Linked DNA regions of Homo sapiens: region 1 is linked to region 2. The links come from fine-mapping of genetic effects on gene expression. A gene starts in region 2. The other region holds a variant in brackets. All regions are shown on one strand. Distances are between the middles of the regions.

Region 1 (8,340 bases), 51 kb before region 2:
TATTTTTTGCCCTTCAAAATAAAATGTAGGGAGGATGAGAAGAGCTTGGTCAATGGGCTCAAAATTACAATTAGGAGGAATAAGTTCTAGGGTATTAATATTGCACAGTAGGGTGATGACGGTTAATAGTAAGATACAGTATATTATAAAATAGCTAGAAGAGCGACTGTTACATGTCCTTACCACAAAGGAATGATAAGTGCATGCTAATACTGATTTGCTCATTATACAACATATATGTGTCAAGACATCAAATTGTACCCTGTAAATATGTGCAGTTACAATGTGTCAATTAAAAAATATTTGAGGCCAGGCATGGTGGCTCATGCCTGTAACCCCAGCACTTTGAGAGACCAAGGCAGGAGGATTGCTTGAGCCTAGGAGTTCAAGACCATCCTGGGCAAGATGGTGACCCCATCTCTACAAAAATTTAAAAAATTAAAATAAATTAGCTGAGTGTGGTGGTGTGCACTCATAGTTCCAACTACTCAGGAGGCTGAGGTGGGAGGATCACGCGAGCCTGGGAGTTTGAGGCTGCAGTGAGCTATGATCACACGACTGCACTCCAGCCTGGGTGACAGACAGACAGACCCTGTCTCTATTCAAAAAAAAAAAAATTGAAACTTCAAAAATGAGATGTCTTTCCAATAAATTTTACTTTTTATGTTAATAATTATTATTTAAAATAATACATGTTGTTTTAATCAATTGTGGACTAATAATATTGTAATGATCATTAAATCCAGAAGAAATGTAACACTAATAGCCCTGTGGTCACAGAAAACAATTTTTAAAATTAATGTCAGTTTACGTGCATATTTTTGATGCCAATAAGAATGATCAGTAGGCTAGGGGTGGTGGCTCACACCTGTAATCCCAACACTTTGGGAGGCTGAGGCGTGAGGACAGATGGAGCCCAGGATTTCAAGACCAACCAGGGCAACATAGCAAGACCCTGTCTCTACAAAAAATAAAAAGTTAGCTGGAGACTGAGGTGCGAGGATGGTTTGAGCCTGGGATGTGGACGGTGCAGTGAGCCATGATTGCGCCACTGCACACCAGCCTGAGCATATAACAGGATATAATTCTATGAGAAAATATAATGAAAATGAGTACCAGAAGAAAAAGTTGTAAAACTTCCAGCTGTTAAAAAAAATAGAATTTACAGTCAATGTATATTGAGATTTACATACATGCTTAACAATCTTTTTGCTCATCATTCCTTCGTTCATCTCCAAAATTCCTTTTTTGATCCTTTCTTTCTGAAGTATATCCCTCAGAATTTTTTTTTTTTTTTTTTTGAGATGGAGTTTTGCTCTTGTCGCCCAGGCTGGAGTGCAATGGTACTGTCTCAGCTCGCTGCAACCTCTGCCTCTCGGGTTCAAGCGATTCTCCTGCCTCAGCCTCCCAAGTAGCTGGGATTACAGGCACGCACCACCACACCCATGCCTGGGATTACAGGCATGAACCACCATGCCCGGCCAGAATTTTTTAAAGTTAGACTTTGTTGAGGTAAATGCTCTCGCTTTTTATTGTTCTGAAAATCTTTTTTTTTTTTTTTTGAGACGGAGTTTCACTCTTGTTGCCCAGGCTAGAGTGCAATGGCGCGATCTTGGCTTACTGTGAACTCCGCCTCCTGGGTTTAAGCGATTCTCCTGCCTCAGCCTTTAAAAAAAATAAAATTTTTTAATGGTGTACATGATGTTTCAAATATGTATATATTGTGGAATAGCTAAATCAAGCTAATTTATATATATATATATATATATATATATATATATATAACCTCACATACTTAACATTTATGATGATAACACTTAAAATCTACTTTTAACAAATTTCAATTATATATAATAACAACAGTAAATTGTCATTAACAGTGGTCATCATGTTGTACAATATACATCTCCCAAGTAGCTGGGATTACAGGCACCTGCCACCACATCCAGCTAATTTTTCACATTTTTAGTAGAGACGGGGTTTCACCATGTTGGCCAGGCTGGTCTCAAAATCCTGACCTCTGGTGATCCACCGCCTTGGCCTACAAAAGTGCTGGGATTATAGGCGTGAGCCACCATGCCCAGCCTGTTCTGAAAATCTTTATTTCACTCTTTTAAGAGACTGGGTCTCCCTCTGTTGCCCAGGCTGGGGTGCAGTGGCATAATCATAGCTCACTATAACCTCAAATTCCCAGGCTCAAGGAATCTTCCCACTTCAGCCTTCCGAGTAGCTGGAACTACAGGTGTGCACCACCACTCCTGGCTAATTTTTAAATTTTCTGTAGAGATGGGGTCTTGCTGTGTTGCCCAGGCTAGTCTTGGAACTCCTGGTCTCAAGTGATCCTCCCACTTCAGCCTCTCAAAGTGCTGAGATTATAAGTATGAGCCACTATGCCCAGCTCAACTCATCTTATTGAATAAAGGTTTAGCTTAGCATATAATTTTAGGTCGTTGTTTCCTTCTGAATATTTAGGATAATTTTCCACAGAGTTCTATTTTCCATTGTTACTATTTGTGAGTCTGCTATTAGTCTGACTATTACTTTGCGTAATTTATCTTTTTTCCCCCCTCTGGTGAATCTTCTCTCTGTCTTTAGAGTACTGCAATTTCACTGGTATATGTAAATTTGGATCTCTTTTTATTTATCTTTACTGGGATTCATTTGACTTTCCAAGTCTTAAGATTCGTATTATTCATATATTCTGAAAGTTTCTCAGTCATTATTCCAATATTGCCTCTCACTGATTTTCCCTATTCTTTTAGAGCTCCAAATATATGTATGAAACATTCATGTTTGACTCTCCTTTTCTTATAACTTGCTTCTTTATATTTTCTATCTTTTCATTTCAGTATCTTTTTCATATTATATTCTGGGTAACTTTTCAATATCTATTTTCATATATATTTATTTATTTATTTATTTATTTTGAGACAGAGTCTTACTCTGTCGCCCAATGCAGTGGCATGATCTTGGCTCACTGCAACCTCTGCCTCCCAGGTTCAAGCGATTCTCCTGCCTCAGCCTCCCGAGTAACCGGGATTACAAGCGCCTGCCATCACGCCCAGCTAATTTTTGTATTTTTAGTAAAGATGGGGTTTTACCATGTTGACCAGGCTGGTCTCAAACTCCTGACCTCAAGTGATCCACCCGCCTCGGCCTCCCAAAGTGCTGGGATTACAGGTGTGAGCCACTGTGCCCAGGCAGTTTATGCCCTTTATTTTAAAATTTGCTTATTGGCTAGGTGCAGTGGCTCATGCCTGTAATCCCAGCACTTTGGGAGGCCGAGGTGGGAC[G/A]ATCACTTGAGCCAGAAGTTAGAGACCAACACGGGCAACATAATGAGACACTGTCTCTATGAAAAAATGCAAAAGTAGCCAGGCAGAGTGTCACACCTGTGGTCCCAGGTACTTGAGAGGCTGAGGTAGGAGGATGGCTTGAGCCCAGGAGGACAGGGTGGTAGTAAACTATGATTGTGCCACTATATTCCACTCTGTCGCTCAAGCTGGAGTGCAGTGGCACAATCTCGGTTCACTGCAGCCTCCTCCTCCCAGGTTCAAGCAATTCTCCTGCCTTAGCCTCCCAAGTAGCTGGGATTACAGGTGTGTGGCACCACACCCGGCTACTCTTTGTATTTTCAGTACAGACAAGGTTTCACCATGTTGGCCAGGCTGGTCTCGAACTCCTGATCTCAAATGATCCACCCGCCTTGGCCTCCCAAAGTGCTGGAATTAGAGGCATGAGCTACCGCACCAGGCCTAAAAAAATGAGTTTTTTTAATGGTGTACATGATATTTGAAATATGTATATATTGTGGAATGGCTAAATCAAGCTAATTTATATATATATATATATATATATATATATATATATATATATATATATATATATATAAAATATATCCTCACATACTTAGCATTTATGATGATAAAACTTAAAATCTACTTTTAACAAATTTCAATTATATATAATAACAACAGTAAATTGTCATTAACAGTGGTCATCATGTTGTACCTTATAAATCTCTTGAACTTTTATTCCTCCTAACTGAAATGTTGTATTTTTTGACCAAAGTTTCCCCCAACTGTACTCCACCCACCTGTCCCCAGTCCCTGGTAACCACCATTCTACTATCTGCTTCTATGAGTTTTTGACTTTTTTAGATTCTACATGTAAGTGATATTTGTCTTTCTGAGCCTGGCTTATTTTGTTTAATATAATGTCCTCCAGGCTCATTCGTATTGTCGCAAATGACAAAATTTCCTTCTTTCTTAAGGCTGAATAGTATTTTGCTGTGTATATTACAACATTTTTAATCCATTCATTCATTGATGGACGTTTAGGTTAACTCCATATCGTGGCTACTGTGAATAGTGCTGCAATGAACATGAGAGTGCAGATATCTTTTTGACATAGTGATTTAATTTCCTTTGGATATATACCTAGTAGAAGGATTGTTGGATTTATATGGTAGTTCTATTTTTAAGTTTTTGAGGAACCTCCCTACTGTCTTCCATAATTTATATCTAATGACCTTTGTTAAATCTTACTAATTCTGATAATTTCTCTGAGGAATTTGTAAGATTTTCTATATAGAACAGGGAGTAGAAAACTTTGGCCTATGGGCCAAATTTGGCCCACTTTTATCTATTTTATGTTTTAAAGACAGGGTGTCAATCTCTTGCCCAGCCTAGAGTGCAGTGGTGCAATCATGGCTCACTGAAACCTTGAACTCCTGGGCTCAAGGGGTCCTCCTGTCTCGCCCTCTTGAGTACCTGGGACTACAGGCACACACGGCCACACCTGGCTAATGTTTTAAATTTTTTGTTGTTGTTGTTGTTGAGATGGAGTCTTGCACTGTTGCCCAGGCTGGAATGCAGTGGTGCGATCTCGGCTCACTGCAACCTCCGCCTCCCAGGTTCAAGCGATTCTCCTTCCTCAGCCTCCTGAGTAGCTGGGATTACAGGCACCTGCCACACCTGGCTAATTTTTTTGTATTTTTAGTAGACACGGGGTTTCACTATATTGGTCAGGCTGGTCTCGAACTCCTGACCTCATGATCTGCCCACCTCAACCTCCCAAAGTGCTGGGATTACAGGTATGAGCCACCGTGCCTGGCCATGTTTTAAAATTTTTTTAGAGATGAGGTCTCACTATGTTGCCCAGGTTTGTCTCAAACTCCTGGGCTCACACAGTCCTCCCACCTTGGCCTCCCAAAGTGATGGGATTATAGGCATGAGCCACGGTGCCTGACCACTGCCTGGTTCTATAAAGAAAGTTTGTATAAACACAGCCACATCTATTCATTTATGTATCATCTATGACAGCTCAGAGACCATGTAGTACACAAAGCCTAAAATATGTACTACCTGGTCCTTTACAGAAATAGTTTGCCAACGCCTGATATATCATCTGTGAATAATAGTGTTTTCTTCTTTCCAATCCATATATAATTGTTTTCTTCCTTCTTTTATTGCACCAACTAGTACCCTCCCCCGCTTCACCCACCCCATGACACTGATGAACAGTAGTGGTAACAGTGAGCAAGCTCTCCTTCCAGATTTTAAGGAGAAATCTTCTTAAGGTTCACCATTTTAAAATGTGCTATAATTTTTTAGTATATACTTTTGATAAATTTCCTTCTATCTCTAGTTAATTAATGATTCAGGAGTTTCATTGAGGTATAACTTACATGCCATAAAACTCACTCATTTTAGGTGTAAATTAAGTTTTTTTTTTTTTTTTTTTGAGACAGAGTCTCGCTGTGTCGCCCAGGCTGGAGAGCAGTGGCGTGATCTTGACTCACTGGAACCTCCACCTCCTGGACTCAAGCAATTCTCCTGCCTCAGCCTCCTGAGTAGCTGGGATTACAGGTGCCCACCACCACGCCCTGCTAATTTTTGCATTTTTAGTAGAGACGGGATTTCACCATGTTGGCCAGGCTGGTCTCAAACTCCTGACCTCAGGTGATCCACCCTCCCTCGGCCTCCCAAAGTGCTGGGATTACAGGTGTGAGCCACCATGCCAGGCCGCAATTAAGTAATTTTTTAGTAAATTTACAGAGCTGTGCAATCATCAACACAATCCAGTTTTAGAACATTTTCATCACCTTAAGAGATTCCTCCTGCCCATTAGCAATCACTTTCTGTTCCCACTCTCAGCTCCAGGCAACCACTAATCAACTTTCTGTCTCTATAGATTTACCTATTCTAGATATTTCATATAAATAGAATCGTACAGTAAGTAGTCTTTTGCAAGTTGGCTTTTTTCACCCAGCATAATTTTTTGAGGTTCATCCATGTCATAGCATGTATCAATTATTTGTTCGTTTTCATTGCTAAATAGAATTCTGTTGCATACATCCACCACATTTTGTTTATCTATTTACCACTTGCTGGATATTTGGATTGGTTCCATTTTTGCTTATTATGAGTGCTACTATAAATATTCATGTACAAGTCTTTGTGTGGCCATATATGTTCATTTCTCTTGAATAGATATCTAGGAGTGGAATTGGTGGATCATATGGTAACTCCATGTTTAACATTTTATGAAACTGCCAAATTGTTTTCTAAAGTGGCTATTCCATTTTACATTCCCACCAGCAATGTGGGTTTCAGCAATCAGGGTTCCAGTTTCTCCATATTCTTGCCAATACTTGTTATTAATTAATAATATGGAGTCTTCGAATCCATGAACATGGACTATCTCCCCATTTATTTACAACTTCTTATATTCCCTTTAGCAATGTTTTATAGATTTCAGTGTACAAATCTCATACCTCTTTTGTTAATTTTATTCCTATGTATTTTACCCTTTTTGATGCTATTGTGAATTAAATTATTTTCTTCATTCATTTTTGGATTGTTCATTGCTTATAAGTAGAAATACAATTGATTGTATATCTTGTGAATTTACTAAACTTGTTTATTAGGTCTAGTGGATTTCTTGGTAGGTTCCTTACTATTTTCTGTATACAGAAACATATTTCCTGCATATGAAGACAGTTTACGTCTTCCTTTCTATTCTGAATGCCTTTTCTTTTTTTTACCTGATTGCACCTCCAGTGCAATGTTGCACCTCCAGTATAATTTCAAAAAAAAGTGGTGAGAGCCTTGCTTCCCATCTTAGGGGGAATGCATTCAGTCTTTCAATGTTAAGCAAGATTCTTAGCTTTTGAATACATTCCCTTTTATGCCTAGTTTTATCACAAAGAGATTTTGTCAAGTGCTTTTCTGTCTTGATTATCATATGGGTTTTGACCTTTATTAGTATAATGTATTACATTAACTGATTTTGGGAGTTAAACCAACCCTGTATTCCTGGGATAAATTCCACTTGGTGATGACATAAAAATGTTTATATATATTGTTAGATTTGCTAATATTTTGTTGAGGATTTTTCCATCCTTTTTTTTTTTAGGAATATTTGTGGTTTCTATTCTTTTTTTTTTTTTTTTTTTTTTTTGAGATGGAGTTTCACTCTTGTGCCCCAGGCTGGGGTGCAATGGTGTGATCTTGGCTCACTGCAACTTCCACCTTCTGGGTTCACATGATTCTCCTGCCTCAGCCTCCTGAGTAGCTGAGATTACAGGCATGCACCACCACACCCAGCTAATTTTGTATTTTTAGTAGAGGTGGGGTTTCACCATGTTGGCCAGGCTGGTCTTGAACTCCTGACCTCAAGTGATCCACCCGCCTTGGCCTCTCAAAATGCTAGGATTACAGGCATGAGCCACCACACCCAGCCCTGTAGTTTCTATTCTTATGGTGTCTGTCTGGTTTTGGTATCAGGATAATAGTAGACTCAAAGCATGAGTTGGAAAATATCCTGTCTCCTCTATATTCTGGAAGAGTTTGTGAAGGACTGTTATTATTTACTATGTAAATATTTGGTAGAATTAATCAGTGAAGCCATTTGATTCTGGGCTTTTCACTGTGGGAGTATTTTTAAATTACCAATTCAGGCCAGTCACAGTGGCTAACACCTGTAATCCCAGCACTTTGGGAGGCCGAGGTGGGCAGATCACTGAGGTCAGGAGTTTGAGACCAGCCTGACCAACATGGTGAAACCCTGTCTCTACTAAGAATACAAAAATTAGCCAGGGGTGGTGGTGGATGCCTGTAATCCCAGCTACTTAGGAGGCTGAGGCAGGAGGATCACTTGAACCTGGGAAGCAGAGGTTGCAATGACTCCATCTTAAAAAAAAAATTACCAATTCAATATCTTTACTTGCTGTAGGTCTATAAGTCAATAGATTTTCTATTTATCTTAAGTCAATTTCAGTAATTTGTGACTCCTTAGGTGTCTATCTGTTCATCTGTGTTGCCTAATTTGTTGCCATAA
Region 2 (8,340 bases):
AGTTTGACAGGGTCTGACATACTATAATTTATTAACATTATCAATTTTACTTTTTCAAAATGTCATTTTAGAAGGTGATACACTTATTTTGACAATGTTTCTATCACTTAAAACATTTTTTGAATTCTTTAGAAAATACCTTCTAACCCATTTATCTTTTTTATTGCCAAATTCCTTATATTGTGGTCTCTATTAAATTCATAATTTTAATTTTTACATTCTGTGTCACCCCCTCCTTCTCTGTATTGAGAAGTCCTTGAGGGTGACAGTGGTTATGCTACCTGGTAAGCTGATTTAACTCATATTTAACTGAAAGATATGAGAAATTACCTCATTTAACACGGATATGTCATCTATCTGTAAAATTACTTTAAGTCCTACACAAATGTAGGGCATACTAGATGAAGTAAGAAGACTGAAAAATTAAAACACTGAAGTATTTTCACTCATCACCCTGATAAACATGAAAAAGAATGGCAGTATGCAGTGTTGCCAAGGGTATGAGGAGACAGGCATGTGTCTAGAATGTAGGAATCAGAATATAGTAATGAGAATTAGTATGATCTTTGCAGAGGGCAATTTAACAATAGATATAAAAATCTTCATAACAATAACTCATTCTAGGGATTTATCCTAAAGATATAAATATAAAATATTTGTTCAAAGAGGTTTTATTTAAACTAATGAAAAATGTTAATGTTGTAGAAATATATTTATTAACATAAGCAGTTCACAATTTACTGTAAGAAAAAAAGCAAGCTACAAAACAGTGATTCCATGTTTATATTAAAATAAACATACACAAATTAAAAATTTCCTTAGATATCCATTTAATCTCTGGGATCATAAGCAATGTTTAGGTATTTTTTGCTCATTTATTGCCTAGGTTTTACACAATGAGCATATATGTTAATTGTGTAATTTAAAATTATGGAATTAAGTGCAAGAGTTCCTAACCACCTTTTACAAAACTGTTATGAGAAAATACATTCTAGATTCAAACAAAAACTAAGCAATATATCCCTTATTCTAACAGCTCTAAAATCTGTTCTTCTCATTATACTCCCACCTAAAATCCCACATCCAAAAAGTAGAAATAGCTGCTTCTGAATTCCTGAAAGTATCGGTAGGAGGTTGGGAGGAGAGGGGCCGGGATATGAAGAGAGAAACTGAATATTTGAGGACAGACTGTTCGTGTTTTGAGGGAAACTTTAGGAATAGGGCTTGGCTGAAGGAAGGAGGCTGCGAGGTTCCATGAATAAGTTTCAGCAAAATAGTTTCTCCTCTCACCAGTTTTCCACCTTATTCAGGTGTGCATCCACTGCTACATGCTCCAACCAATTGCTGTTGAGACCCCAGAGACCCCAGCACCACGTGTGATTAGGAAGCGCTTCCATCATTGAAATGGAATAGAGTCTACTTGCTCACAGTAACTCCTGTTTCTATTCCTTTGCTCCTTCCTTAGCAACTTCAGGTCTTTCTTCAGTAAAATTTTTTGCTTTGTAAACCTATTTTTTTTCACCTCCTGTAACATGATATGCTGCCCTTCTACGACCTTTGACATACCAATCATCTCCATCTGAAATACTTCTATCCCTTTCCCAACCCTATCTTGACTAATTTATTTCGTACTCATTTTTATTTTCATTTAGGTGCCACTTCCTCAGGGAATCCGTGAACACAGTGTCCATAACAGATTCCTTCAAGACTTTATCTCAATTAACAAATATATTTTATGCATTATTTAGTAAGGCTATCTACTATCTAGTTGAACCATTAAGTCCCAGGCTCAATGAAAACAGTGCCATTAGCTGGTTTTGCTCAGCATGGTTACTCCTGCATTTGGAACATAGCAAGTGCTCAACAAATATACGCCGAATGAGAGAATGAATGAATGAACAACTGAGTAAACAACTAGCAACCGAGAGGCTTGGTGGGGTAAGAATTACATTAACTATGTCACCTCATGGTGGAACTGTGCACATTTTTTCTTTTGATGGCGGACTTGTGTACTGACAAGACAAAGTTTTAAATAGATACGATTTTGGAAAGTTCCCTTTAAAGCAAAGCCATACAATAAATATTTAATCAGCCAAGAAAAAGGCTGTAGTCTAGCCTGGGGACTTCACAAATGACCCAAATCATGAGAGCCACGTCTCTACAGTGTCTTAGTACTGTATCTTCCTTGAGCAAAGGAACGCACTTGCCCCATCATGGCAAGTTCAGGTACAGAGTGCAAGGAATCTACAGCTTTCCTACCCCGACACAGGTTTAGGTAGGAAAACGCGAGCCTAGGATGATGGGGAGAAAGCGGGCATTTATTCAAAATGTATTTACTGAGCACCTACTGTGTACCAGAAAGCCCTAGTTGTGGGCTGGCTCTGACAGGTCCGCTGTGTAGCTTCGGGCATTTCTCCTTCACAGAGCCCAAGTCCTGAAGGCGAGCAAGTGGGGCCCCGCCTGCCTGCCTCAAAAAGCTGGGCTGGGGATTCCAAGGGCGAGAATGCGCTTCAGAAAGTGCCAGGAGGCACGAAGGCCAGCGGCCCCAAACGGCCTCGCTAACCTCGGCCCGGGCGCGGGGAGCGAGCCCAGGACGGCCGTCCGCTGGCAGCAGAGCCGGGCGGAGGCGGGCGCCCGCCCTCCGAGGGGCCGCGCTTACCCGTCGGGCGAGTACTCGAGGTTGAAGACGGCGCCGTGGGTGCGGGTGCTGAGGTACACCGAGTCCGCGGGGTGGATGGAACCGTAGAGGCTAGTCATGGTGCGAAAATTGTCCCGCGCCGGGTCCACGAACAGCCCGCGGCCCAGGCTGCGCTCTTTCAGCCACCCGAACAGCCTAGCGCCAGGGCCGCCCAGGCCCGCGCCGAGGCCGTGTCGGCCCCGGCTCTTGGCCCTGCAGTCTGGCCCGGGCCGCCGGCACGGAGGGGAGGGAGGTGACGGCTCTCCCGGGGCGGAGGCAGTTGAGGACTCCGGAGCTCCAGGCAGCCCTAGCTCTCCGGAGCGCGGGGCCGGGGACAGCGATGGGGCGCCGGGGCGGCGAGGGCTTCGGGCGGGTGGAGGGGGATGGGTCGCATCAGCCCCGGGATGTAGTGGCGAGGGCGGCCCGGTGGCTGCTGCCTGCCCCTCGTGGGGCGTCGGCTCCTCAGCCCCGGCTCCGGCCGATCCGTCCCCTCCAGGGCTATGGGGCCCAAAGGGAAACATGATCAACGCCCCCGCCCCCCGCTCCGGGCCACTGCCCCGCCGGCCGACACCTCAGTGCCCCTGTTCAGCTGCCACTTCCGGCGTGCAGCGGCCTAACCCCACCGGCTGGAAACCCGCGCCGCCCCTCGGCCACCGTCCGCCGGGGACCGGGAAAGCTGAGACACCGCCGGGTTTGGGGCGCCGCAGTCCCGGGAACGGAGGTAGGGAGCGAGTAGTTACCTGTGTGAGCGACTGAGCATCTGGGCACCTGATCTGGGTGGCAGAGTCGGTCTGTAGTTGTCAGTGACCGGTGGCCGCGTGCCTGGGGATGAGTGGCCTGACCAGTCAGTCCTGTGAGGCTGAGTATGTACTGGTGTCTCCACTTTACACTGGGATCAGCGAGGGATTAAGAATTAGTGCATTACGTGCAGGCCACACACAATAGGTGACATGCCACTCTTTTTTTTTTTTTTTTTTTCCGAGATGGAGTCTCGCGCTGTCGCCCAGGCTGGAGTGCAGTGGCGCGATCTCGGCTCACTGCAACCTCCGTCTCCCGGGTTCAAGCAATTCTCTGCCCCAGCCTCCCGAGCAGCTGGGATTACAGGCGCCCACCACCACGCCCGGCTAATTTTTTGTATTTTTTAGTAGAGATAGGGTTTCACCATCTTGGCCTGGCTGGTCTTGAACCTCGTGATCCACCCGCCTCGGCCTCCCGAAGTGCTGGGATTACAGGCATGAGCCACCGCGCCTGGCCAGCATGCCCAACTCTTAAAGGCACAACAAGTTCAGGGTGACCACAGGCAGCTTCTTCCAAAACCTATTTGTCACAAGGCAAAGGAGAGACTGAGAGGAAACAGGTTTGGATGTGCTACCCAAGGAATGGCTGAGATAGCCAGTCTGTGTATCTGGGCTTAAATGAAAGATGGCAAATAGGTGATAGTTACTTTTCTGGGTCAACTTGACTGGGCTAACAGATGCCCAGATAGCCTGGAAAACCATTATTTCTGTGTGTGCCTGTGAGGGTGTTTCCAGGACAGATTAGCATTTGAATCAATAGAAGATCTGCCCTCACCATTGTGGACAGGCATCATCCTATTCATTAAAGACTGAAAAGGAACAAAAAGGCAGAAGGGTGATTTAACTTTCTCTTAAGTTGGTACATCCATCTCCTGCCCTTAGACATCAAAACTCGGTTCTGCGGGCTTTGGACTTGGGGACTCATCGTCAGTTTTCAGGCCTTCAGTCTTGGACCGGGAGTTATACCATTAGCTCCTCTGATTCTCACACCTTCAGACTCAGACTGAATTACACCACCAGATTTCCTGGTTCTCCAGCTTGCAGACTGCAGATCATGGGACTCCTCTACAATGATATGAACCAATTCCCATATTAAATGTTCTCTTATATCTATATCTCCTATTGGTTCTACTTCTCTGGAGACCCCCTGGATGGGTCCAATCTACTGTAGCAGCCTACTTGCCTGGCATTCACACTCTTCATGTGTATGCCAGCACGTATATTCTACTGAACCCATCCTAGAAGTCCTAGGCTGTCGAATTTTGTAGCTGTTACTTAGCTTTCCTTGCCTACTAGCCGGGGTAGGACAACTATTTGAGTAACCAGGCTATAGATTAGCCACTGGTCCATGAGGCTGCCAGACCAAAAGTCTTTGCCCATACAGACTCATGCTCTTGGGAATTTGAATTGGGAAATCAGAAGTGAGGCAGTTGGCCATGATGGTTGGGATTGAAAAGTCATAAGGCAGAGTGAGGCCGCTGGAGTCCTGAGCAAACCAAAGGAGTAAGAGAAATCATGAGAAAGCAGCAGCCATGAGAGAACAGACTTGGGATAGACGGTGAGAAAGAAAGTTGATGGTAGGAGGAGATACAGATACATAAAAAGAGACAGACTCAGAACAGGTTAGACTTGTTCTTGGCAGAGTCCCCCTAGGGTCTTCCTGCAGAGTCCCTTGAGGTACCAGAATGATGGCTGCTCAATTTCAGTTTCAGTTTCCTGTGGGATGATCACTTGATTTCACAATACCTGAACCAGGACTTATGCACTGACAAAAAGAATCAAGGGCCAGACACAGTGGCTCACACCTGTAATCTCAGTGCTTTGGGAGGCCAAGGTAGGAGGATCTTTTTTTTTTTTTTCAGGGTCTCACTCTGTTGACCAGGATGGAGTACAGTAATACAGTCATGGCTCACTGCAGCCTCAACCTCCCAAGCTCAAGCAGCAGGAAGATCTTTTGAGGGTAAGGAGTTTGAGACCAGCCTGGGCAACATCATGAAACTCTGTCTCTCTATGAAAAATAACAAAATCATTCCGGTGTGGTGATGCATGCTTGTAGTCCTAGCTGCTCGGAAGGCTGAGCCAGGAGGATCCCTTGAGCCCAGGAGTTCAAGGTTACAGTGAGCTGTGATCACCCTGCACTTCAGCCTGTTGCACTTCAGCCTGAGCAACAGAGTGAGACCCCATCTCAAAAATTAAAAAAAAGAATTGGCACTTTGGGAGGCCGAGGCGGGTGGATCATGAGGTCAGGAGATCGAGACCATCCTGGCTAACAAGGTGAAACCCCGTCTCTACTAAAAATACAAAAAATTAGCCGGGCGCGGTGGCGGGCGCCTGTAGTCCCAGCTACTCTGGAGGCTGAGGCAGGAGAATGGCGTGAACCCGGGAAGCGGAGCTTGCAGTGAGCCGAGATTGCGCCACTGCAGTCCGCAGTCCGGCCTGGGCGACAGAGCGAGACTCCGTCTCAAAAAAAAAAAAAAAAAAAAAAAAAAAAAAAAAGAATTGGAATGACAACCAAGAAAACAAATGTGTCCTTTCAACCAGGGAGCCTTCTGTAGCCCAAAGAAAACAATGTACTCAAGGAGTAAAGTGATCCTATCATATAAGCTTATTGAAAAATAAAAAGCAAACATTCATATAATGTTTAGTGTATGCCTAATATTATGCTGAGTAAAGTGATCCTATCATATAAGCTTATTGAAAAATAAAAAGCAAATGTTCATATAATGTTTAGTATATGCCTAATATTATGCTGAGTTAAGTGATCCTATCATATAAGCTTATTGAAAAATAATAAGCAAACATTCATATAATGTTTAGTATGTGCCTAATATTATGCTAAGCTGGTTCATATATATTAACTCAAAACTCAAGGTATGTTGGTACGATTATTATCCCCATTTTAGAGATGAGAAAACACAGACACAAAAAAGAAAAGTCAGCCTGAGAGTGGTAAAGCCAGGATTCAAATCCAGGCAATCTAGCTCCAGGTTCCATGCTCGTAACCAGGTGCTACACACACATTTGTAGATTGGCTTGGATCTATAGCTATCGCTGTACATACAAGCTCCTTGCCAAGGATGGCAACTCAATAGTATTTTTTAAAAACCTCCAAATCTAAGCCAATCTACAAATATCAGGTCTGGCTCCCCTTTTCTTCTGAACACTTTTAAATTCTGAACCTTTGAATAACTGTAATCCCATGAAAAAGAACAACTTCCATTTGTTGAGTAAGTGCTTCACCAGGCTTATTGGTAGGAGCTTTGCAAGCATTGTCTCTAAATTTCCCTTTACTGGGGGCAGCCATAACTTGGCAACTACGAGGAAATGCAAGCTCAGTATTGCCACAGCTACAGATTTTTCAAAAAATGCCACATGTGGAAGTTCAAAATGAGGCCTGCTGTGGGCTCAATGATGCCACAAGAAATAGGACATAGGATGATATACCTAACACAGCAAGGAGATGCCTTGTGTGGCCATCAGTAGATCTTTGAGAAAAGACAGAGTCACTCTGTTTTACAGGCGTGAGCCACTGTGCCCAGCCTCATATTCTCTTTATTTAAGAAGATACCGGAGGTTATGGACCTCTAGCAAAATGGACAGGTAAAGCAAGAAAGTGGAATAAAAGTGATCTAAGTGGATCTAAGAAGGAGAGCAGTGCAGGAAGGTATAAAAGACAGGTGTACAAAAAGGGAGGGAAATATGACACATGCTACAACGTGTATGAACCTTGAGAATATTATGCCAAGTGAAATCAGCCAGTCACGAAAGGATATATATACTGTATGTTTCCACTTCTATGCAGTACCTAGAGTCGTCAAATTCACAGAGACAGAAAGAAGAATGGTGGATGCCAGGCACTAGGGTGAGGTGGGGATGGGGAGGTATTGTTTCATGGGTACAGAATTTCAGTTTTGCAAGATGAGAAGAGTTCTGGAGATGGATGGTGGTGATGGCTGCACAACAGTATGAATACACTTAACACTGTGTATGTACTGAATGTACATGTAAAAATTGTTAAGATGATAAATTTTGTTATGCATATTTTACCACAATTAAAGAAAAGACAGCTGTGCAGCAGGCCTGAAGAGCAGCCCCCCCAAAGTGGGAGGAGCACAGAGTGGGAAGTCTCCAGAGGAAAAATGGAAATGGAATGTTGCAATCTATTAAGGCGAGGCAAAAGACTCCAATGCCAGAATAGTGGAAGAAATTAACAAAGTATATAGAATAACAAACAATGGACTGAAACGAGGCAATCACCAACTCCATGAAAAATAAAGGATTGCATAAAATGTACAATCTGTCAAGGCAGATAACAATATTTGCACTGGTAATATTGTAAAAAATGGCTTCTGATTTAACCAGAAATTGTGCTGTAACTATGCCGTGTGTTAGCAAAGCGTGGAGAGGGAGGGATGAAGAGTGTGGAAATAGGAAGAGCCAAAACCACATCTACCTTGTCAGGAAGTCAACACATTCTCTTAAAATTAAGAAATCAAGCAATATCAGTGTATTATATTTAAACATTGAGGTAAAATAGCAGAGAAAAGAGCTGTAGATGAAGGTGGTTGTCTTTTCGGATGGGAACTGGAGGGTGCAATGGGTAGGAATTTTTTCATCTTCTCAAACTGAAATTCGTATACTTAGGCATGAAGTCCCATTTCCACCCTTCAACCCCCACTCCCAAGCACCTGGCATCCCCTGCTCTTTTTCAGAAGCCTTGTAGACTCAAAATTACCTGCACTATTTAGGCGAAAACTAAAAGTGGATATTTTCTAAGGTGTAAGTCATGTTACTGTTTTTCCTCAGGTATACTGTTTTCAGCCTAGAGCAAAAGTAAACTTTTAAGTGGTCTCTGCAGGGATATCT

The links.
Region 1: its variant is fine-mapped to the expression of DCAF10 in whole blood (TOPMed, PIP above 0.99).

What each region holds. Positions count from the first base shown.
Region 1 is chr9:37,846,375-37,854,714 of GRCh38, reverse strand. The region is part of intron 3 of DCAF10 (DDB1 and CUL4 associated factor 10); the gene reads right to left. Among named protein-coding and RNA genes, the nearest start is that of DCAF10, 50 kb to the right of the region's middle. The variant G/A (reference allele first, on the strand shown) is at 3,294.
Region 2 is chr9:37,795,725-37,804,064 of GRCh38, reverse strand. DCAF10 (DDB1 and CUL4 associated factor 10) reads right to left here and starts at 3,268. Exons shown (of 7, transcript NM_024345.5): 1 at 2,660-3,268. The coding sequence starts at 3,198. It overlaps LOC105376037 (a long non-coding RNA gene), which reads left to right and starts at 3,174. Exons shown (of 3, transcript XR_929599.3): 1 at 3,174-3,398; 2 at 5,337-5,434. RefSeq lists enhancers at 2,137-2,186, 3,138-3,739 and silencers at 2,497-2,556, 2,777-3,296.